Regions from separate parts of the Homo sapiens genome. Here all the other regions are linked to region 4. The links come from fine-mapping of genetic effects on gene expression. A gene starts in region 4. Each other region holds a variant in brackets. All regions are shown on one strand. Distances are from middle to middle.

Evidence for each region. PIP is the estimated chance that this variant, and not a neighbour inherited with it, causes the effect.
Region 1: its variant is the best candidate, but not a certain one, in a credible set for the expression of MFF in whole blood (INTERVAL, PIP 0.78).
Region 2: its variant is the best candidate, but not a certain one, in a credible set for the expression of MFF in monocytes after R848 (Quach 2016, PIP 0.79).
Region 3: its variant is the best candidate, but not a certain one, in a credible set for the expression of MFF in whole blood (INTERVAL, PIP 0.73).

What each region holds. Positions count from the first base shown.
Region 1 is chr2:227,269,491-227,274,935 of GRCh38, forward strand. It overlaps COL4A3 (collagen type IV alpha 3 chain), which reads left to right. Exons shown (of 52, transcript NM_000091.5): 24 at 420-490; 25 at 1,280-1,462; 26 at 3,459-3,627. The region is part of intron 4 of MFF-DT (MFF divergent transcript); the gene reads right to left. Among named protein-coding and RNA genes, the nearest start is that of MFF-DT, 53 kb to the right of the region's middle. The variant T/A (reference allele first, on the strand shown) is at 3,151.
Region 2 is chr2:227,363,729-227,369,173 of GRCh38, forward strand. TM4SF20 (transmembrane 4 L six family member 20) reads right to left here. Exons shown (of 4, transcript NM_024795.4): 3 at 2,365-2,516; 4 at 1-284. Among named protein-coding and RNA genes, the nearest start is that of TM4SF20, 13 kb to the right of the region's middle. The variant C/A (reference allele first, on the strand shown) is at 2,851.
Region 3 is chr2:227,278,539-227,283,983 of GRCh38, forward strand. It overlaps COL4A3 (collagen type IV alpha 3 chain), which reads left to right. Exons shown (of 52, transcript NM_000091.5): 29 at 1,255-1,352; 30 at 1,902-2,052; 31 at 2,355-2,468; 32 at 3,827-3,994; 33 at 5,229-5,318. MFF-DT (MFF divergent transcript) reads right to left here. Exons shown (of 14, transcript NR_102371.1): 3 at 3,166-3,251; 4 at 945-1,037. Among named protein-coding and RNA genes, the nearest start is that of MFF-DT, 44 kb to the right of the region's middle. The variant G/A (reference allele first, on the strand shown) is at 3,382.
Region 4 is chr2:227,322,022-227,327,466 of GRCh38, forward strand. MFF (mitochondrial fission factor) reads left to right here and starts at 3,230. Exons shown (of 9, transcript NM_001277062.2): 1 at 3,230-3,406. It overlaps MFF-DT (MFF divergent transcript), which reads right to left and starts at 3,143. Exons shown (of 14, transcript NR_102371.1): 1 at 3,097-3,143. RefSeq lists an enhancer at 3,052-3,101 and a silencer at 3,282-3,571.

The DNA.
Region 1 (5,445 bases), 53 kb before region 4:
GTGTGTCTACGAGTCCTATGCACTTATGGATATAAAAAATGTATCATTAATTTACATTAAACTTTGGCAAATATTATCTTCTGGTAGATTTATAGGTGATTTTTAGTCTCTTCTTTCTGCATAATTTTCTTATAATGAGCATATATTACTTTTAAAAGTAATATATACTCAGAAAAAATAAAGATATATTCTTAAAATTATGAAGATAAAATTTTAAGAAGCTAAGATCTGAGTTACTTTTTACATGATCTCTTGTTCTGTTATTTACTCCCATTCTCTTATTGCATTTATGTTTTATGATAGAAGTTGTCTTTCTTTCCCCACAAGGAAACACTCTATTTTCTTCATACATTGTATTACCCTGTCTACTTAGAGTTGGCGTTCAATGAGGAGTTAGTTAATAATTCGTTGATTTGCAGGAAGACAAGGCGCAGCTGGCTTGAAAGGAAGCCCAGGGTCCCCAGGAAATACAGGTCTTCCAGGATTTCCAGTAAGATTTCATGTTTTTAAATCTTTAGCTTCAATTTGACAAATTGCACACTCTAGAAATATGGTTGCAACACACTTACCAGTTTGGTGCCTTGCAAACAGTAGGCACTTAATAGATACCTGTTGATTAAATGAATAAATCTGTGACTGATTAAGTGAATGAGTCAATGAATTTATAAACAGTTTGAAATGGTATCAGAAACAGAAAGCAGATTAGTGGTTGCCTAGGGCTGAGAGTGGGAACAGAGGTTCATTGCAAATAGGTTTGAGGGAATTTGGGAGAGTGATGGAGATGTTTGAACGTGATTGTGGTGATTGTGGCATAATTCTATAAATTTACTAAAAATCATTGAATTGTACTCTTATAAAGGAGAAATTTTATGGTATGTAAATTATACCTCAATAAGTCCGTTAAAAATTAGAATCTTGACTGTCATAGTGAATCAAAAAGTTATAGATAAATATACTTAGATCAAACTATTCAAAGAGGCTTGTTAAAATTTACCAATATTCAAACATAACCTGTATTATGGTGATTGTTCTATGGTATTAAATTATATTATTGTCTGTATTGCTTTGAATTATACTATCTAACTGAATTATTTTTCAGTTTTGGAAGTTAACAACAAAGCAAAACAAACAAAATGCTTGTAATAATAGTTGTGGACCAAAGAGTGTGTTGAAAAAATTCATGTTAAAATTGAAAAGTTCTTGTCCACACTGTTTTTAAGATTGACAGAAGAAGAATTCTAACAAAATACAATACAGATTCATTTGTGTACTACCCTAGGGTTTCCCAGGTGCCCAGGGTGACCCAGGACTTAAAGGAGAAAAAGGTGAAACACTTCAGCCTGAGGGGCAAGTGGGTGTCCCAGGTGACCCGGGGCTCAGAGGCCAACCTGGGAGAAAGGGCTTGGATGGAATTCCTGGAACTCCGGGAGTGAAAGGATTACCAGGACCTAAAGGCGAACTGGTTGGTATTTAGCAACTTTACCCTCCCTATAAATGAAGTACTCTGAAGTTAAGAGATAAAGTGATTTCTTTTCCAAAAATGGTTGGCCGCTCAGCACAGTTCATCACTCTAACTGCAGAATGAAACATCTTCAAATTAGCAGGAATAACCCAAGCAAATAGTTATAGTATTTTGACAGAATAAATAGGTAGCATTCAGTGATTTCAACCAATCAAAATTCTACATTGATAATGACCCCATCTCATACACAAATTACAGTTCCATATTTGTATCAAATGAGTCTATGGAAAAGTTCAGAAAATGATGTATAGTAGAAAGTTTAGTAAATATTTTGGGGCGATGTCCATATTTTTAAATAAAAATAAATGCATAAGAAGACAGCATATTTAGGGGTATGGTAGTCAAATAAAGAGATTAAATGTTTTGTCATTCATTTAATTTTATGGAAATTTAATCCCTTTTCATGAGAGAGTTTCTCACATATTTAATTGAGGTAATACCTACCAAGATTTTTTTTTTTTTTTTTTTTTTTTTTTTGAGAGGGAGTTTTGCTCTTGTTGCCCAGGCTGGAGTGCAATGGTGCAATCTCAGCTCACTGCAACCTCCATCTCCTGGGTTCAAGTGATTCTCCCACCTCAGCCTCCTGAGTAGCTGGGATTACAGGCATGTGCCACCACACCCAGCTAATTTTGTATTTTCAGTAGAGACGGGGTTTCACCATGTTGGCCAGGCTGGTCTCGAACTCCTGACCTCAGGTGATCCACCCACCTTAGCCTCCCAAAGTGCTGGGATTACAGGTGTGAGCTACTGCACCCAGACCTAAGATTTATTTTAAAATGTCACAGAGTGAGAGGGTGAGCACCTGTCATCATAATGTATTTACAAGAGGTTTGCAAGGGATGCTGCCCAAACTATTCTATGAAATACCAGTTTCTCCCAGGGCTAATCTGTGTTAGCCAATAAAACAGATCTTACCTCAAAGAGGTTTGGAGAAACTTGGTAAACAAATTTAAAGATTCATTTACAGACCCTTTAATATCAGAATATGAACTGTGAGTCTTCCACATGAAGATAAGCTATCTGGTCTTTCCTAAATGCTTCTGACTACAAAACCCTTTTTGGCTGGCAGCATCTATGGTGCCAGCAGTTCTCAGACCCTGCCTTGGCCAAGTCCCAGGTTGTTCACTTTGTGGTAGTTATGCTTATAAAGTGACAGTGCCAGAATTCTGATGGTCTAATATTAAGAGAATTTGTATGATGTCCCTACTTGCATCTCACTGATTTTTCTTTATAAGTTCTGGTAAAGATGCTCCATAAAGTAAATGAGAGAAAAATCAAGGTGGTGATTTGTTGAGTCTTACACCCTGTCATTAAAAAAGGAGACAGACCACTTAGCCATCTGATGATATTGAACAATGAAAAATTGAGTCAAATTTATTTCAGAGGGCCATGTTGGGAAGGAAGAGGGCTTAAATTATTTTGTCAAATTCAATTTCTTTTAAATCTACAAATCATTTTCAAGGTTATAGCATATGAAGATTTAAAAACTAGACAGTTTATGAGAGAAAATGGAAGTGGGAAATCCCCTTTGTCATGAAAATACCTGGTGAAACCAGAAATAAAGGTTTGCTGTGCTCATTTTATTTCAGAAATGTAACATTATCATGAATATCACCACTAAAGTCATT[T/A]GAACTATTGGTCAATTTGAACATAGTTTTAGTGGCTATTACCATATGGGAGACCCATCATTGTAAGATATCTCAAGTGGGACTCAAGACAGTTCCAAGTTCAAAAAATGTTGCTAAACTCCAAAGGACACAAAACGGAAGAAACCTGCAGTGCTCTTACTTTAGTAATAATTCTCATCAAATGCCAAATGCTTTTAATTCAAGATCTCAATGACAGCCTAACTGGTATTCATATTTGGAGGATGATTAACCTGTTGTAAGAATATACTGGAATGAAGCACGATTCAAACACATTCCTGTTGTCACAGGCTCTGAGTGGTGAGAAAGGGGACCAAGGTCCTCCAGGGGATCCTGGCTCCCCTGGGTCCCCAGGACCTGCAGGACCAGCTGGACCACCTGGCTACGGACCCCAAGGAGAACCTGGTCTCCAGGGCACGCAAGGAGTTCCTGGAGCCCCCGGACCACCCGGAGAAGCCGGTTGGTTAGTTTTCTTTCCAGTCCTGTTTTCCGATGGAGTGGGTTGATGGTTTCTAGAGCTAACGAAGCTTCTCCAAGACTAAGGAAAATATAGAAACTTGCTTCTAACGAATAGAATATGTCAACTCACAGATACCAGGAAAGAATATGTAGGGTATGTTAGAGAAAACTCATTTTTTCTCCATTACTGGGCAATTCAACTGAAATTTCCTAGAATATTCTATATCTATTACATACATACATATATATATATGAAATGAATAGATCCTAAGCGTTATTGCAAATTTGTTTTTTGTGGTTTTCTAGAGACAGGGTCTCACTGTGTTGCCCAGGCTGGAGTGCAGTGGCATAATTATAGTTTACTGCATCCTCAAACTTCTGGGCTTAATAGATCCTCCTGCCTGGTCTCCTGAGTAGCTGGGGCTACAGGCACGTGTCACCACGACCAGCTAATATATATTTTATTTTTATTTTTTGTAGAGACAGGATGTTGCTGTGTTGTCCAGGCTGGTCTCCTACTCCCAACCCCAAACAATCCTTGCTTCAGCCTCCCAAAGTGCTAGGATTACAGGCGTGAGCCACTGTGCGCAGCCACAAATTTGTTGATTTTGATCCATAACTCCATAGGCAGGTTACAAATAAAACTTTAAAATATCTAAGACAAATGAAGGAAAATGGTCTGATAATAGTTTAAAAGTCCAGGTAACTTTTGGGATATACATATACTGGCCGTAGTTCTGGATTCAGGAGTGTGGCTGAAGGTCAGAATAGCATGCTACTGATAGTTTTGAGCAAATAATGCCAACATGGTCATGTTTTACTTCTAAAATCACCTTAGGCTGGGCACAGTGACTCACACCTGTAATCTCAGCACTTTGGGAGGCCAAGGTGGGCAGATCACTTGAGGTCAGGAGTTCAAGACCAGCCGGGTCAACATAGCGAACCCCCATCTCTACTAAAAATACAAAAATTAGCTGAGCATGGTGGCACATACCCACAGTCCCAGCTACTTGGAAGGCTGAGGTAGGAGAATCGCTTGAACCTGGAAGGTGGAGGTTGCAGTGAGCCAAGATCGTGCTACTGCACTCCAGCCTGGGCAACAGATTGAGATACTGTCTCAAAAATAAATAAATAAATAAATAAATAAATAAATAAATTTTAAAAATCACTTTAAAGGGTAAGACCCAGTAAACCTCTAAATCATTTTGTAGTGTCTTCCCTCATCAGTAAAACTTTTTGAGTGCACAACCTTACATTATATGTTATAAATGTATGCATCATTTCTGTCCACACATGTATGTAAATCTTATTTTATGACTTTCTCTATATATTAAATAAACAAATAAATATTTATGTTTATCTGCACCTTACTTTGGAGCTGCTTTTTTTTTTTTTGTCTGAGATGGAATCTTGCTCTGTCGCCCAGGCTGGAGAGCAATGGCGCAATCTTGGCTCACTGCAACCTCCGCCTCCCAAATTCAAGTTACTCTCCTGTCTCATCCTCCCAAGTAGCTGGGATTGCAGGCACCTGCCACCATGCCAGGCGAATTTTTATATTTTTAGTAGAGATGGGGTTTCACCATGTTGGCCAGGCTGGTCTTGAACTCCTGACCTCAGGTGATCCACCTGCCTCGGCCTCCCAAAGTGCTAGGATTACAGGCATGAGCCACCATGCCTGGCCGAAGGAGGCTGCTGTTCTAATCCAGGTACTAGCAAACGGTGGTGGACCACAGTCCAAGACCAGCCCACTGCCTGATTTTGTATGATCCTCAAGCTAAGAATGGTTTTCACATTTTCAAATGATTGAAAAAAATGTTT
Region 2 (5,445 bases), 42 kb after region 4:
CAATTTGACTTCTTCGCTTAGAGACTCCACACAGACAGCCAAGGAAACCGATGACTATCTGACTGAGCCCAAACAGGACCTCCAGAATTCCAACAAGCAATAGACCTAAAAATACTGAGAAGTGGATAAGCCTATGTTTGTTTTCTTCAGAATCGAAGTGGAAACTAGATGCTCTCCAGCCACTCGCCATGGTGTCGTTACTGGTGGGTTTATTGAAACCAGTAGGAGGTGCACAAGAGTCATTGAAAAACCACTGCAAGTTGAAGGATTCTGGATGAATGTCACTGAAAAACAAAAGATAAAAATCAGATATTCAGAAATATCCCTGACCAAAGGAAAGTAGCATTGTGCACATAAAAGAATGAGTGAAACGAATGTACTTTTGAAATATCGTGCCCAGAAATGACAGAGATCAGGGTTTCTGAGCATGTGTCCATATACTCTACTAGTTACAAAACTTTTATTACTTATATAGCCCATCATTTAACAAGCATCTCTATGGTACATCTTCTCTTAGGTTGAACGGTATGAAACTGCTGTTTTGGGATGTCAGAAATAGTTGAATGTCAACAGTTTTTCGTGGTTCAACCTATTTATTTTATTTATTCAGATACTCTTCTACTTGCTAGATATAAAAACTAAGGAGCCTCCCCTACCCCCCGCCACCCCCATTAAATGAGCTCAGTTCTTAGTGCAGAACTACAGCGTGGCGTCCGTTCTTCAACCAGATGTACAGTTTTTACTGATTAAATATGTCTGATTAAAGTGATGTGCCTGTTCTTAACGGGGCTGTGGAAAATGAGAAACTTTTAGCCCTAATACATCTATCTCAAGATGATTTTTTGTTTGTTTACTGTAGAGTAAAATGGAATGTTCTTAGGGAGTTTGCATTGCTGGATATCAGCAACTGACATTCAACCTGGGAAAACAACAGTATTTTCAGCACATGGAATATGAGTGTTTTGTGAAATGTGTAGCAAGCCAAGGATCACTCTCTTGTAACTTTGCTAGCCTAGCCCATCTCCGCAACTAGGCTGAGAATATCTGAGCGCTGTTGTCTGCAGAGCGTAGCCTGGTGCCTGGTACATTGTGGGCTGTTGTCATTCCCTGGGGATTTAATGTGCATAGCATCTGTGGTAGAAATCTTTAACCCTTTACTTCAAGTCTATTAGCAAGGAGACTTTCCTTGGCTTTGTTTTTGAGACACAGTCTCACTCTGTCACCCAGACTGGAGTGCAGTGGCTTGATCTTGGCTCACTGCAACCTCCGCCTCCTGGGTTCCAGCAATTCTCCCGCCTCAGCCTCCTGAGTAGCTGGGACTAGAGGCGCGTGCCACCACGCCTGGCTCATTTTTGTATTTTCAGTAGTGATGCAGTTTCACCATGTTGACCAGGCTGATCTCAAACTCCTGACCTCAAGCGATCCACCTGCCTTGGTCTCCCAAAGTGCTGGGATTACAGGCGTGAGCCGCTGTGCCTGGCCTTCCTTGGGTTTTGGTTCAAAACAAATATGCTACACAAAATTTGAGGGACTTTCTTTTTTAATGTAGCAAGGTAAGGGAAAAGGAGAAAAAATTTTTTGTATGTAACTACAAAAGTAAATTCTGGTTATTTGCTAAACTGAGCAGGCTATACAGAGAGGTAATGGATTAGATAGTTTTTTTCTTCCAGTTTTTACAAATTGTGTCTAGATTCAGTCACAGAATGATGTACTTAAAAGACTAAAATGAGCCACTTATTAAGTACATGTAACTCTCCAGTATTACTTGTTATTACATGACTTAAAATTTGGATTCATTCCCATGCATACAGTATATTTATAGCATATCTGTATGAATCCATTGGTTGCTCTTCCATTTAAGCCTACAGGCAAGGCTCTGCATTTTATTTATTGTGTTTTTATTAAATTTTTTAAATTGTAAATGTAATATTTGCTCATGGTTGACAAATTTAATTAGTTCAGAAGTGTAGAAAGTAAATGTTCTCTTCACTCTCATAAAGGGAATCCCCTATTTCCATTCTCCAAGGATGAAAGTTAAGTTTCTGGTGTATATTTGCATAATTTTTTAATATACATACACATATGTAACTGTAGATTTTTGAAAGACAAGCATAAGCCATTTGAGATCAACTAGTCCTTTTAGACAATATCTAAAAGTCCTTTTAGAGCATTGTAAATCTAATGATTCCTCCATTTTGATGTGGAGTTGTGCTAACTGGCGTTAATGTACTAAAATTCCTAAGAATCCGTTTGTCCCGGCAGTTGCATCAAATAAAAACATGGCATTGTTCCAGTACTGCATTAATCTAATCAAACTAGTTCAACTGTGTGAGACAGTAAGCCTGTGAAAATCAAGTTACTTACCTGATGTTTTTCAATGAAAATTCACAATTGGCATTACTGTTGCTTGGAGAATTACACATGAGAGGACCTTTTAAGAGAGCCTGGATGGATATCAGCATGCAATACAGAGCACCAATGACTGTGATCACACTGAAAAGTGATGAAAGAAACATCTGAAAAATAAAATAGAGCCATTTGCACATGTTATGACATGTTCTTGATCTGTTTCAAGCTTCAGGAGCGTATACAGTCTTTTTTAAATCCAGTCGCCCTAAAATCCTGGATCTTAAGATCACAGTTTATTAGGTGTGAATGATACAAAAAGGCAGAGGGCAGTCTCTGCTATTTGATTACACTCAATAAAAGATGGTTGGGGCTGGGCATGGTGGCTCACACCTGTAATCTCAGCACTGTGGGAGGCCAAGGTGGGTGGATCACCTGAGGTCAGGAGTTCAAGACCAGCCTGGCCAACATGGCAAAACCCCCTCTCTACTAAAAATACAAAAA[C/A]TTAGCCAGGCTTGGTGGTGGATGCCTGTGATCCCAGCTACTTGGGAGGCTAAGGCAGGAGAATCGCTTGAACCCGGGAGGCAGTCATCCGAGATCGTGCCATTGCACTCCTGCTGGGTGACAGAGCAAGACTCTGTCAAAAAAAAAAAAAAAAAAAAAAAAAAAAAAAAAAAAAAAAGATGGTTTGGCTTGTCACTGTCTCTGGAAAATCTCAACTTTCATATTCCTGAGTCTCATCTGTTTCTTCTGACCACTGAGATCTAGTTCCTCCCTGTTTTATGTACTTCCTACTTCATAGAATCTTGACTGGATCTTAACTACGTTTATCTTCATGTCTGGTCTCTTGGCTCGCAAGCGTTTGGCCCTGATGCTTTAAGTGAATTTGGCCCTGATGCTTTAAGTGGCCAGTGGCCAGCATCCCACAGTGATCAGTCAACAGCATAGAGTTAGAACAGGACTTCCCAACCTCAGCACCAATGACATTTGCACACTTCGCTGTGGGGCCTTTCCTGTGCAGTGTAGGATATTTAGCAACATCACTCATCTCTACCCACTAGATGCCAATATCATCCCCCGACGCCTTGCCACCTCCAGCCCGGTTCTGACAACCAAAAATGTCTCCAGGCATTGCCAAATATCCTCTTGGGGTGGAGGTGGGTGGGTAAAATAACCCGCCGGTTGAGAGCCACTGTGTTAGAAAGATTGTACACATCTTTATTTCGTGAGTCAGTCATGAGAGCAGAAGAAGGCATGGAATTTGGCATAGGAAACTGAATGAAAGTTCGTGTTTGTTTTTCCAAAAATAAGCTCTTAGGCCAGGCACAGTGGCTCATGCCTGTAGTCCCAGCACTTTGGGAGGCCAAGGAGGGTAGATTGCTTGAGCCCAGGAGTTCGAGACTAGCCTGGGCAACGTAGTAAGAGCCCATCTCTAAAAGAAAAAAAAAAGAAGGAAACTTTTGTATTGTTTCAGTGAAGTTGTTAGTCACTGATGATTATTTCAAAATCAGCAGAAATGAAGCGAGGGAATGCTTTTCCTTTTTCTTTGCTGGGATAATGCAGCTCCCACAGGGTCTGTGTGTTGTGTTCTTGAGACCTGCCTTTTATGAGTGCAGAATAAGGTGGCTACCTATAGAGTTGTGTTGAGGGATGTTGTGCTCTACATATATCATCTCATTTAATTCTTTTCATAATCCCAAGAGGTAGATACTATTATTATTTCCATTTTATAGATGAGAAAACTGTGTATCATGGAGATGGACAAAACTTGTCAGGCTCTCACAGCTGGGAAACACTTTAATCACTATTCTTCTTCCAGCCAAAAGTTCAGAATGATGGATTTGGAGTCTACTTCAAATCCTGATTCTTCCATGCTACTGTGACTTGTGCAGTTACTTAAATGTACTCATCAAGAAGTGCCATGGTGTTTATTTTTAACCATCTATTTTTTTTTTTTTTTTTTTTTGGAGACGGAGTCTCGCTGTGTCGCCCAGGCTGGAGTGCAGTGGCATGATCTCGGCTCACTGCAAGCTCCGCCTCCCGGGTTCACGCCATTCTCCTGCCTCAGCCTCCTGAGTAGCTGGGACTACAGGCACCCGCCACCACGCCCGGCTAATTTTTTGTATTTTTAGTAGAGATGGGGTTTCACCCTGTTAACCAGGATGGTCTCCATCTCCTGACCTTGTGATCCGCCCGCCTCAGCCTCCCAAAGTGCTGGGATTACAGGCGTGAGCCACCACGCCTGGCCGCCATCTATTATTTATATATATATATATATATAATTTTTTGTTTTTGAGACGGAGCCTTTCTTTGTTTCCCAGGATAGAGTGCAGTGGCGCTATCTGGGCTCACTGTAACCTCTGCCTCCTGGGTTCAAGAAATTCTCCTGCCTCAGCCTCCCAAGTAGCTGGGATTACAGATGCCCGCCACTACACCTGGCTAATTTTTTTATTTTTATTTTTTGTATTTTTAGTAGAGACAGGGTTTCACCATATTGGCCAGGCTGGTTTCAAACTCCTGAACTCAAGTGATCCGCCCACCTCAGCCTCCCAAAGTGCTGGGATTGCAGGCGTGAGCCACCGCACCCAGCCATATTATCTTTGAGTTCTCATCCCTACAAAAGGCCTGGCTTTAGAAAGTGATTCCAGGCATGTGTATTTCCCCTAAAGGGGATTCACTTAAATGATTCAGCAAAACCATTTTGTATTCAGAAGCAAAAATAAGAACTGGAAAAAGGGAAGAAGCAAAGAACAGTTAAAATAGGGGACAAGCCTTGGTCAACCCTTTCCCTTCCTCCCAAGATGTTGCCTTTGCCACTTGTCTCATGTTTTGGTCTTATCTAGGCCTCAAAGACACCAGATACGACATAAAAACCAGTTCTTAGAGGATACACCTATCGGAAAAGCCTATATAAGTGTTTTGATATTTTTGATTTCAGGAATTCAGAAATGTCTCAGGATGTCAAGAATGTTGTGAACACCACATAGAAAAGATACAAAGTCAAATTCCAAATTATTATCGTTTACAAAGAAAAGTGACAGGGAAGGGAAACTGAAAATTAGTGTTTATTGAATACCTAAAATGTATTCAGACAAAAAT
Region 3 (5,445 bases), 43 kb before region 4:
GTATTTGAAATGGAAAACATAATCTCATTTCTCCTGGAGTCTTAAGAATGGCTTTGAGTCCAATTTCTTGGTTTTCTTCCTAATGATCTGTGAAGTAAGGGAGTCTGCCTCACATTTGTACTTCATTCTTCTTGGACCCTGCATTAATAAATTACATCCCTACTTTGTAACTCTAGGTATTGACTCTCTGGAAGAAGACTGTTGACTGTGGGAACCAGAACTAGCCCAAGAGCTCCTTGAAAGTGGAGATTTACAATTTCACAATTGAATCTAATGAATCCCATGAACTAACTGCAAATTAAATATTGGTCAAATTAGGGTATGAAGGAACTCCCTGAATGCAGCCTTGCTTCACCGTGGCTTCCTCTTCTGAACCAGAGATCACAGAAAGTGTGTTGACCCCTTTCTCAAGTCACCTACTATAAATGCATAAGAAGTTAATCCCTTGCATGCAATGGATGCTATAGGGCATTAAGACTTAATTCTCTTAAGCAACCCCTGTTGAGAAAGGCTACCTGGGGTGCTGAAAACGTTCTATATCTTTTTTTTTTTTTTTGAGACAAAGTTTCGCTTTTGTTGCCCAGGCTGGAGTGTAATTGGCACTATCTCAGCTCAACACAACCTCTGCCTCCTGGGTTCAAGCGATTCTCCTGCCTCAGCCTCCCGAGTAGCTGGGATTACAGACATGTGCCACCATGCCTGGCTAGTTTTTTTGTTGTTGTTTTTTTTGTTGTTGTTGTTTTTGTATTTTTAGTAGAGATGGGGTTTCTCCATCTCCATGTTGGTCAGGCTGGTCTCGAACTCCCAGTCTCAAGTGATCCACCCACCTTGGCCTCCCAAAGTGCTGGGATTATAGGTGTGAGCCATCATGCCCAGCCAAAAGCTTTGTATCTTAATCTAGGTCATGCTTACATGAATATATCCATATATAAAAATCCACTTACCTGTACACTGTATGTAAAAAATACTTCAAAAACAAAGTCAAATGGTCAACCAGCATCAGTGGTTTGAAGAATTGCTGAATCAAAATCATGGCCCTACTAAACAACAAAATAGAGAAAGTTATTTTTTCAAATAGGAACCAATGTAATTTGATTTGGAACTTTTAAAAAATTGCTAATTTATCAGTTGGTTTTATTATCATTTAAATTTTCATAAAAGCATCTCTAGCTGGTTGAGAGATAAGAGAGTTACTGCTCAGAATATTTCAATAAGACTAATCCTACAACAATGTTTATTGTTTTTTCTCTGTAGGAGACCAAGGTTTTCCAGGTACAAAAGGATCACTGGGTTGTCCTGGAAAAATGGGAGAGCCTGGGTTACCTGGAAAGCCAGGCCTCCCAGGAGCCAAGGTATGCAAAAATTCAAGCTATCACAGAAGAGAGGGTGGGTGACCATTAACTGGCCAGTTTGTATGCACTTATCTGGCAGAGCACTCTAGATGTAGAAATGATCAATATATTTGTAGATGATGAAGATATTAAATTTTTTAAATGTTTCTCTGGATCATCTTCCATTTTAGAAAGGAAAACATAAGGTGTCAGAATGCAGATTTCATCGTGATATCATCTTTAATGGTTTCATAAATAATCAGAGTATTTAAAATGGGACAACTCTAGAAAGAAATGTGGTTAGCTATAAGAAAAACTATCAAAAGTAAAAACATCTAGATTTTTCTCTTTATAGACAATCCCACAGTCTTCTGAAAAAGTGGAGGCTACATATCCTGAAGTATTATTAAACATAATCTTACAGAAAAGTCAGCAACTAGAGCTCAAAAAGGAAAGTTGATGACATGGTAGTGGCTGTGCAACAGGGACTTAGAGCCTCCATAACAGAGAGTCAATATCAGTGAAGATTTGGAAGCACTATATAGTAATAACACAATTTCTATGCTGTAGGGAGAACCAGCAGTAGCCATGCCTGGAGGACCAGGAACACCAGGTTTTCCAGGAGAAAGAGGCAATTCTGGGGAACATGGAGAAATTGGACTCCCTGGACTTCCAGGTCTCCCTGGAACTCCAGGAAATGAAGGGCTTGATGGACCACGAGGTACAATAGCAAGTGTCATTACTTTTCTCCACTGTGAGCTCTGCTAAAATGCAGCAAACTGAATGTGAAGGTGTTCTAGGCATGAAGAATTCTCCCATCCAATGTTCCTGCCCTACCTTTCTTCCTTCTTTCCTTCTTCCTTCCTTCTTTTTTAATGAGTGCCCTCTAGAAAAGGCATATTAATGGCAGTAAATATAGATCTGATTTAGGTGGAAAAAAAGTTAACAGAAGAATGACTGGTACAGCAATACCAAGACCTTAAGTTCTAGCACCTGGGTATATACTTGTGCTTTCTTTTGCAGGAGATCCAGGGCAGCCTGGACCACCTGGAGAACAAGGACCCCCAGGAAGGTGCATAGAGGGTCCCAGGGGAGCCCAAGGACTTCCAGGCTTAAATGGATTGAAAGGGCAACAAGGTAGGAGGAGGGCCTCAAAACTGGCCACCAGAAGGGCAGGAGACATGAGACTCCTGCTCTGTGCTTTGCTGCTTAACATGGGAACTGTCCAGCCACAAGTCCTGACCACTGTTCAATGAGAAATACTTCAGAAGTGTAAACCTTGCTGTTATGGGTTTGTTGCACACAGTAGTGTGTACCACCTATAAAGGAAGAAACTTGAAGTTAATATAGTGAGTTGCTTTGTGTCTTTTATGCAAGAAAAATATGAATGCTGAAGACAGAGATTGGTGTGTGTTTACATATATTTATATACATATTAAATTCTCAGAAAACATTTTACCTTTAATATTTTCATAAATATATTAAAGTGGTAAGTTTATCCTTATTATTAAAATAGGGTAAATGTATGCAATGATACCAGTTTAAAAACTTATAAACTAAAATATGTAGTTGATTGTTTTACATACAATATAAAAGAAAAAACATGAAAATAAATCTAAATGATGCAGGCTAGATGTTCCAGATGATGGAAAACTTTGTTTTTGGATCCTCTCCTCATCAGATCTGATGAACTGTTCCTGGAAAAATGTATTTAGAAATCAGTTAATGTCTGTGGTCTATCATACTGCTTATATGTTCACAAATAAATTTTTGACCAAGACCTTAACTGTTACAGTGGCATTATTATTTTTTCCAGAGGCATCCAGTGGCTTACCTCTATGCGAACGGCTCTGTATGTCTTCTGCAGGAAACAGAGTGAGCAGCACTCATAAGGTGCAGTCCCAGAATGTGTCTGCAGGACTAGAAAATAGATATAAAGACTACACTTGTATTACTGCATAAATCATTGGAGCAGAGAATGTTAGAGCCAGAAGGGAGCTCAGAAATTTTACAGAGGGGACATTAAATACATACACACACACATGCGCAC[G/A]CATGCGTAAGTGTGCAGTTACCCCAAATCACAAAGCTAAATATTTACAGCCATAAAATATTTCTAAAGTGGCCGGGTGCAGTGGCTCATGCCTGTAATCCCAGCACTATGGGAGGCCGAGGTGGGCGGATCATTTGAGGTCAGGAGTTTGAGACCAGCCTGGCCAACATGGCAAAACCCCATCTCTATTAAAAATACAAAACTTAGCTATGCATTATGGTGCACGCCTGTAGTCCCAGCTATTTGGGAGGCTGACGCAGGAGAATCACTTGAACCAGGGAGGCGGAGGGTACAGTGAGCCGAAATCGCCCCACTGCAATCCAGCCTAGAAGACAGAGGGAGATTCCATCTTAAAAATATATATATATATATATATATATATTTCTGAAGTTAGTAGGGGAAAGCATTTGTGGGTTAATTAATTCATTCATTTATTCGTACACAGGCAGAAGAGGTAAAACGGGGCCAAAGGGAGACCCAGGAATTCCAGGCTTGGATAGATCAGGATTTCCTGGAGAAACTGGATCACCAGGAATTCCAGGTCATCAAGGTGAAATGGGACCACTGGGTCAAAGAGGATATCCAGGAAATCCGGGAATTTTAGGGCCACCAGGTATCCTTTTGTGTGTTTCTATTTTTCTTCTTATTTCTTCTTCTTCTTAAGGTGGCTCTGTCAACTGTACATAGGCATACGCTTTTTACTCTATGCTTTTACTTAATATAAGGTTTTCCTTCTAAATTATTTGTAAGAAACCAGGGGCCATGGTGCAGGGAAACGGTGGCGGCAGGATGAACAATTACCCAGAATGTGGCTATTTTTGCTGTGTAATCCTTTTTATATACGACTACTATAATATACTTGCTAGTATTTTGTTGAGAATTTTTGCATTTATATTGAGAAGGGATATTGGTCTGTAGCGTTCTTGTGATGTCTTTGGTGTTGGTGTCAGAGTAATGCTGGTCTGATGGAACAAGCTGGGAAGTGTTTCCTCCTCTTGTATTTTCTGGAACAGTTTGTGAAGAATCGACGCTCTTTAAACATTTGGTAGAATTCACCAGTGAAGTTATCTGGGTCTGGGCATTTCTTTTTGGGAAGTCTCTAAATGACTAATTCAATCTCTTCATTTCTTATAGGTATATTCAGGTTTTCTATTTCTTCTGGAGTCAGTTTTGGTATTCTGTTTCTCTAGAAACTTGTCCATTTTTATAAGTTATCTGATTTGTTGTTGTTGTTCATCATATTTCTGTATAATTGTTTTAATTTCATGGCTATGTTTATTGTTTATATGTTTGGGGAGAATATTCTGTTCCCTCATGGCATAAGGACCTCACCGATCTCCCCTCTGGAAAAGAGCCTAAAACAACTTAATCGACACATTATCCTTTCATTCATGTTATTGGGCTACTATCACATGCCAGCATTCTTCTAGGCCCTAGAGACACATCAGTCAGTGGACAAGTCTCCCCTTCTCATAGTAGAGGATCAATAATAGAAATATTTAAAATCTAAGTTCAATTTGAGACAAGTGTTATGAAGAAAATAAAGTGAAGGGATAGAATAGAAAGTGACTGGTCAGGGGCTGGGAGGATGGAATGCTCCAAAACTTCCACATATGCTATCCTCATCCATGAATATGATTTGCTACCAATCACTTCCACATAGGTGAGTTTAAAAGACCACTTACCGACCCATCTCCTAGACTAATACAGTAATTGTACTATGTACAGAGGCCATTTTTTCAACTCCCAATCTCTGCTTCTAAGTATAATTTATTTTAGTATATGGAATATTTTGCTTTTCTCACTCTGTACAACACGTGCTGCTTTGTGTTAATTTGTTTCCATAGGTGAAGATGGAGTGATTGGGATGATGGGCTTTCCTGGAGCCATTGGCCCTCCAGGGCCCCCTGGGAACCCAGGCACACCAGGGCAGAGGGGTAAGTGATAGAGTGTCTTTCTAAATAGCAGGAAGCATAAACAATGTTCATTTATTTTGCAGCAAAAAAAGTTATGTTTCATTGGAGGGAAAAATAGTTCTGAGAGAGCAACAGTATTTGATTTTGC
Region 4 (5,445 bases):
ACTCTGGACAGGAGGAATGAACAACTCCAGATGTGCTGCCTTTAAGAGCTGTAACAGTCACCGCAAAGGTCTGCAGCTCCACTCCTGAAGCCAGCAAGACCATGAGCCCACCAGAAGGAAGAAACTCCGGACACATCTGAACATCTGAAGAAACAAACTCCGGACACATGACACACCATCTTTAAGAACTGTAAGACTCACCGCAAGTATTCGCAGCTTCATTCTTGAAGTCGGCGAGACCAAGAACCCACCAATTCCGGACACAGAAGGAAGGAAAACAAAGGGGAAAGCAGATTCTCTACAGAATGTGGATTTTTCCCATAAGAGACTTTGCAGGACAATTTCAAGGTAGGGCAAGGAAAGATATTTTTGGGTAAAATATTTTTATTTTCTTCCTTATTATGCCAGAGTCAGATTGGAAAGTAAGTCATGATATACACGGTTAAATAAAACCCATCTGATGTGCATTTATGGTTTGGAGAACATGACTCCCCAAACCCCTTAGATAGGAATTTGAGCAAGATAAAAAAATCAGAGCTTAGTCCTCAGAACCAACCTAATGCATGATCTCCCAACTTGATCTCTATCTTCCCACAAAAGATTGACTTGGAATGACTTATTATTCCTAAAAATCAATCTATTCTTAAAGGCTTATTTGTCTCTGTAGGGTAGTTGTTAAGAGTTAAAGAAAGAAGAGAGAAACACAAAAAGTGGCTCAACAATCAAGGATAGGTTTATTTTAGAGAATAAACCTGAGAGGGGCTTCTGGCCAATTTTGGTCAGGAGCACTCTCTCTTACAGACTAAGAGTATTTAAGGGTTTAGGGTGAGAGAGCTTATCACAGGCTTGGAATATTTCTGCTTGGAGGAGAAGTTTATTACAGGGTTGGAATGTCTCTGGTTGGAGGGGAGGGGTTATCTTGGGGCTGACATCGCTCCGGTCAGAGGGAAGGTTATCTTGGGGCTGACATCGCTCGGTCAGAGGGAAGGTTATCTTGGGGCTGGCATGTGTCTGGTGGGAGAGGGGTTTATCTTAGAGTTAGAATGTTTCTGGTCGGAGGTGTCATTTGTGGTTTGTGGTCATGCTGACAGCCATTAGGCTGATGCCCTCTGGGTTGGATTTAGGTGGTTTTTGATCAAGGGGCACTTTAAAATGGCAGTGCTTCTGCTCTGTCAATAGTAGGATATGCCAACCCAAAATATGGCACTTTGGCATAAAGATTATTTTCGAGTCAAAGGCACTTAAAAAAAAAATGCAAAAAGAGCACTGTGGCTTTCCTTTTTCCTTCCTGAAAGCAGGAGATAAAACTTCCGTATGAAAGGTGCCCTCCCTGTATAAGGAGGAAGGGAGATGTTCTCAACACCAGAGACATGGAGTCAAAGCTGAGCTGTATCTGCACAAACTTACCGATTTTCATTTCCACTTTGTTACAACAACCTTTATCTTCTTAGTCACTTCTGCATTAACTGCACTAACCCAAATCTGTTTGTTTTCTCACATTTTCACAATTTACTACTCTTTTTAGCCTTCCCTAGAAAAATGGAGACTCAAAAGCACTTAGGGTCCAACTGTTAATTTGGGTCTCCATTTTTCTAGGGAAGGCTCCAATGTAAATGTAAAAATTACTAAATAAAATTTGTATGCTTTCCTCCTGTTATGTTTTATGTCTCTATTTTACGTCAGTGGAGACTAAGCTCTGATTTTTTTTTTAATCTTGCTCAAATTCCTATCTAAGGGGCCTAGGGATTCATGCCCTACAATCCATAAATTCTCATCAGATGGGTTTTATTTAACCCTATATATTGTGACTTACTTTCCAATCTGACACTGGCATAACGAGACAAGAAACAAAATCAAAATATTTTACCGCAAAACATTTTTTTTAGTTTTTGACATATCTTGAAACGGCTCTGCAAAGCTGTCCTTTGTTGGGGGAAAATCTGCATCTACATAGAATTTCTATTAACATAGCTAGATCATTTTCTTCCAGGTCCTCCCAATCCTAAAGAGATTACGTAAGAATCTAGCACCTTTTAAAGATCTGAATAGGAAACATTTGTCATCCATTGTCTCTAAGGGCAGCCACTATAAGACTTCAAAAGAACCTTGGTCTCCACAATCTTTTATTTTAACCTCAACATTTCCTTTCTATGGGTCCCAGGTCTTCAACTGTCAACCAGAAAATGTTTAAATTTACCTACAGCCTTGGAAGCCCCTGCTTTGAGTTGTCCCACCTTTCTGAACCAAACCAATGTAGTTCTTAAATTTATTTGATTGATGTCTCATGCCTCCCTAAAATACATAAAACCAAGCTGCGCCCCAACCACCTTGGACACATGTTCTCAGGACCTCCTGAGGGCTCTGTCACGGGCCATGGTCACTCACATTTGGCTCAGAATAAATCTCTTCAAATATTTTAGAGTTTGACTCTTTTCCTCATCAGTTTAATTCTTAGGCCCAGCCAAGACCCCAAGAGGGGAGAGGAAATATTTTCACTTTCCCTACACCAGTGTTAAGAAGCCCAAGAACGCAATTCAGAGGGCTTCCCAAATCATTTTGAAGAATGGTAACATCTCTAGAATATCAATTAGATCGTAGGGGAGTACATAAGTCATGTGTACACCTTTAGGTGTTTGTGAAAACCAAGGCATATAAAATATCACATTATTTGGCCTCAGTACATTCCCATACTGACAAGCACTGTACCATTTTTCCCCCGCTCTAAGCAAGGGCTTCCTGGGGGGAAGAGTCTGTGGTTGGGTGTTCAGAAGCAGAGAGTGCTCTCCCAAAGCTAAACGATGCCGCCAACTACTGTGAAACTTAACTTCCCCTCTCCCGGAATTCTCATGGAAGACAAGGTCTGATCAACCGAGGGCTTAAGAAGTATCAAATTGGAACTCATGGAATCACTGGCGGAGCTGATTTACATATGAGAATTCCTAAGCCTCACAGCATAGAAATTTTCATGCCAGATGGTCCTGAAAAAGTTGTTTTAATTGGCTACCAAAGGTTTACCTTGCAAACACCAAGTTCTTAAAGATTACAAAATCTAATAAAGCCGAAGTGTGAATTAAACTTAACCGCAAGAGGAGTCACCTGCGGTCACCTCGTTTCGCCCACAACAAAGATGTCTGCGCATCGCTTACCGTGGAGCCGTTCCAGTGCGTGGGCCACGCGTCCGCCCTTTTCCGCGTCACATGACCACGAACACTCTTCCGCTACGGCTCCCAGAAGGGGCCAGCCCGCGCCTTTCGCGCTTCTGCCCTGGCCCTCTGCGGGCCGCTCCGCCGGTGCTGTCCCTGGGCGCCTCCGTGCTCTCAGCCAACCACCTCTGAGAGCGCCCACTCGAGCGCCCCGGGAGCCAGAGGGCGGGGGTCCTCGCCGGGACCCTCCTGTGGGCCCAGGGGTGAGTGTTGACGTCTTCCCGACCCGCGACCTGCCGCCCGAGCTGGCTGCCAGGCCTATCGCCGCCGCCGAGACCCTCCGGCCAACAGGGACCCGCGGTGGCCCCGGCCCCCCCGGTAGTGTCTCCCTGACCCGAGTCCCGTCCCCGGGCCTCTTGCCTTCAACCCTGGTCTTTCCTCCTCCCCGGGACCTTGAGTCCCCGAGGAGAGCGAGGGAGAGGAGCGTCTTCTGCAGGTGTTTTTGGGCGAACCTCTTCACCTTGTGTGGTTCGGCGTCTCCTTTTGTGTATTAACCCGGACTTTTCCGACTGGAAAATAGGGGTTTGGGAAGCAGCGGGAGTCCCGTGAGCGTGAACGCCGGGCTTTGCAGGTCTTCACTCATCCTTCCCTGCCAAGGCCCTGACACCTTACAGGCTGACCTTAAACCTGCCTTGTTTAAAAGGAGGTTTTTGTGTTGTTTTGTGGCAAGTACATTTTGGAAAAGAAGGGCCTTGTTGGAAGCCCAGGTTGTGGCATCGCGGGTGGCTGCGGGCCACCCTGTCCGTCTGTGAGCATCCCTGCTCGCAGATGTGGCTGCAGGCAGTTGCTCTCGGGTTTCCTTCCAGGAGCTGGGAAGCCGGAGGAAAGCTGCGGTTCCTGTTCCGCCGAGCTTCTGACCTTCCTCTGCAGGACGTGTGCTACTATTACTATCGTAAAAGAACACCCCTGTCTACCTCCCACAAAGTTAGAAGCAAAGGGCATTCTCGAGGGAAGAGCACCCTTTCAAAAGTGACATGTTTTCATTGGAGAACATTAAAGGGGAAAAAAAAAAAAAAGGTTTCTGGCCCTTCTGCCCAAATATAGAACCATTTGTATTCAGGCCTCTCATCCACCGAGAGACTTAAGATGATCACAAATGTTTTGTCTCCCTGCGTGAAAAACATTTTTTCTGCCTCAATTCCGTTGGCTAATGAGAGCCCAAAAGAAAAACCCTTAGGAAAATTAGGACGATTTAGTTATACTTAGTAGTCTTTTCCCATGCAATTAAATTGCTTGGGGGACCTTCTATCTTTTGGTTTCAAAGGCTTGTATATTGGTTTTGCCATTTTTTCCAAAAGGAAATTGTGTTCTCTCCCTTCCTGTCTGATAGAGCTGCCTCCTTTCAGAATTGCAAAGTTTAGTCTTCGCTCTCCTCTCTTCTGGTATTGAAACTTTTCTGTGGGTTCATAACCTTATTTTAAAGTTCATTAATATATAGTTTTAAAAGTTTGCAGTGACTTTTTAAATATAGTTTCTTTGAAAAAGAACTGAAACAGGGTGTGCAGAGTGGCCCATCTGTGTGAACTAGGTCCACGCAGTAGGTAATAAACAACTGGAGGGTTTTTTTTGGTTTGTTTTTGTTTGTTTGTATGTTTGTTTTTGAAAAGTACATAAACATTTGCAACCACAGTCAGTTTGACTCAAGTTGTTTCGGTGACTTCCGAGGCTTTCTGGGTTCCAGTGTTCTAATACAGAAAATGAGAAAGTTGGGCTGGAATCATTGTGTCCCAAAATTGGTACACTTTCCGCTAGTGGCATGTGACTTGACTCTAGGCGGTACGTGGATGAGGATTTTTTTGTAATAGGATGTTTTTGCAATCTGTATTTATATATGTACAGCCATGGTTTAAGGTAGTGATACAAAATTTTCTTTTACAATACTTTTTTGATTTTAAAAAGTCGAGTTAAAAAAATTAACTGTAGCAAAAAGTTAATGTACTCTGTGAATATGGGAAAAAAAAAACCCATGAAGTTGGCAAGTTAGTTACTGGTGTTTGGGAACCACTGGGCTTAGAAAGTAGAAATATGAAATCATCTGTGATTCTAAGAGAGATTTTGCCTCGTTTGTTATGTAACAGAATCACGTACTGGTTGCCTACTGGATTCTAAGGTACAAAACTTCTGGAATTAACATATCAACACCAAATGAGACGTTTATTTATTGCCAAAAGATATTATCAGAAATGCCACAGTCTAACGAGGGAGAAAAAAAATCAGATTTTGATTGGTTTTAAGCAGAAAA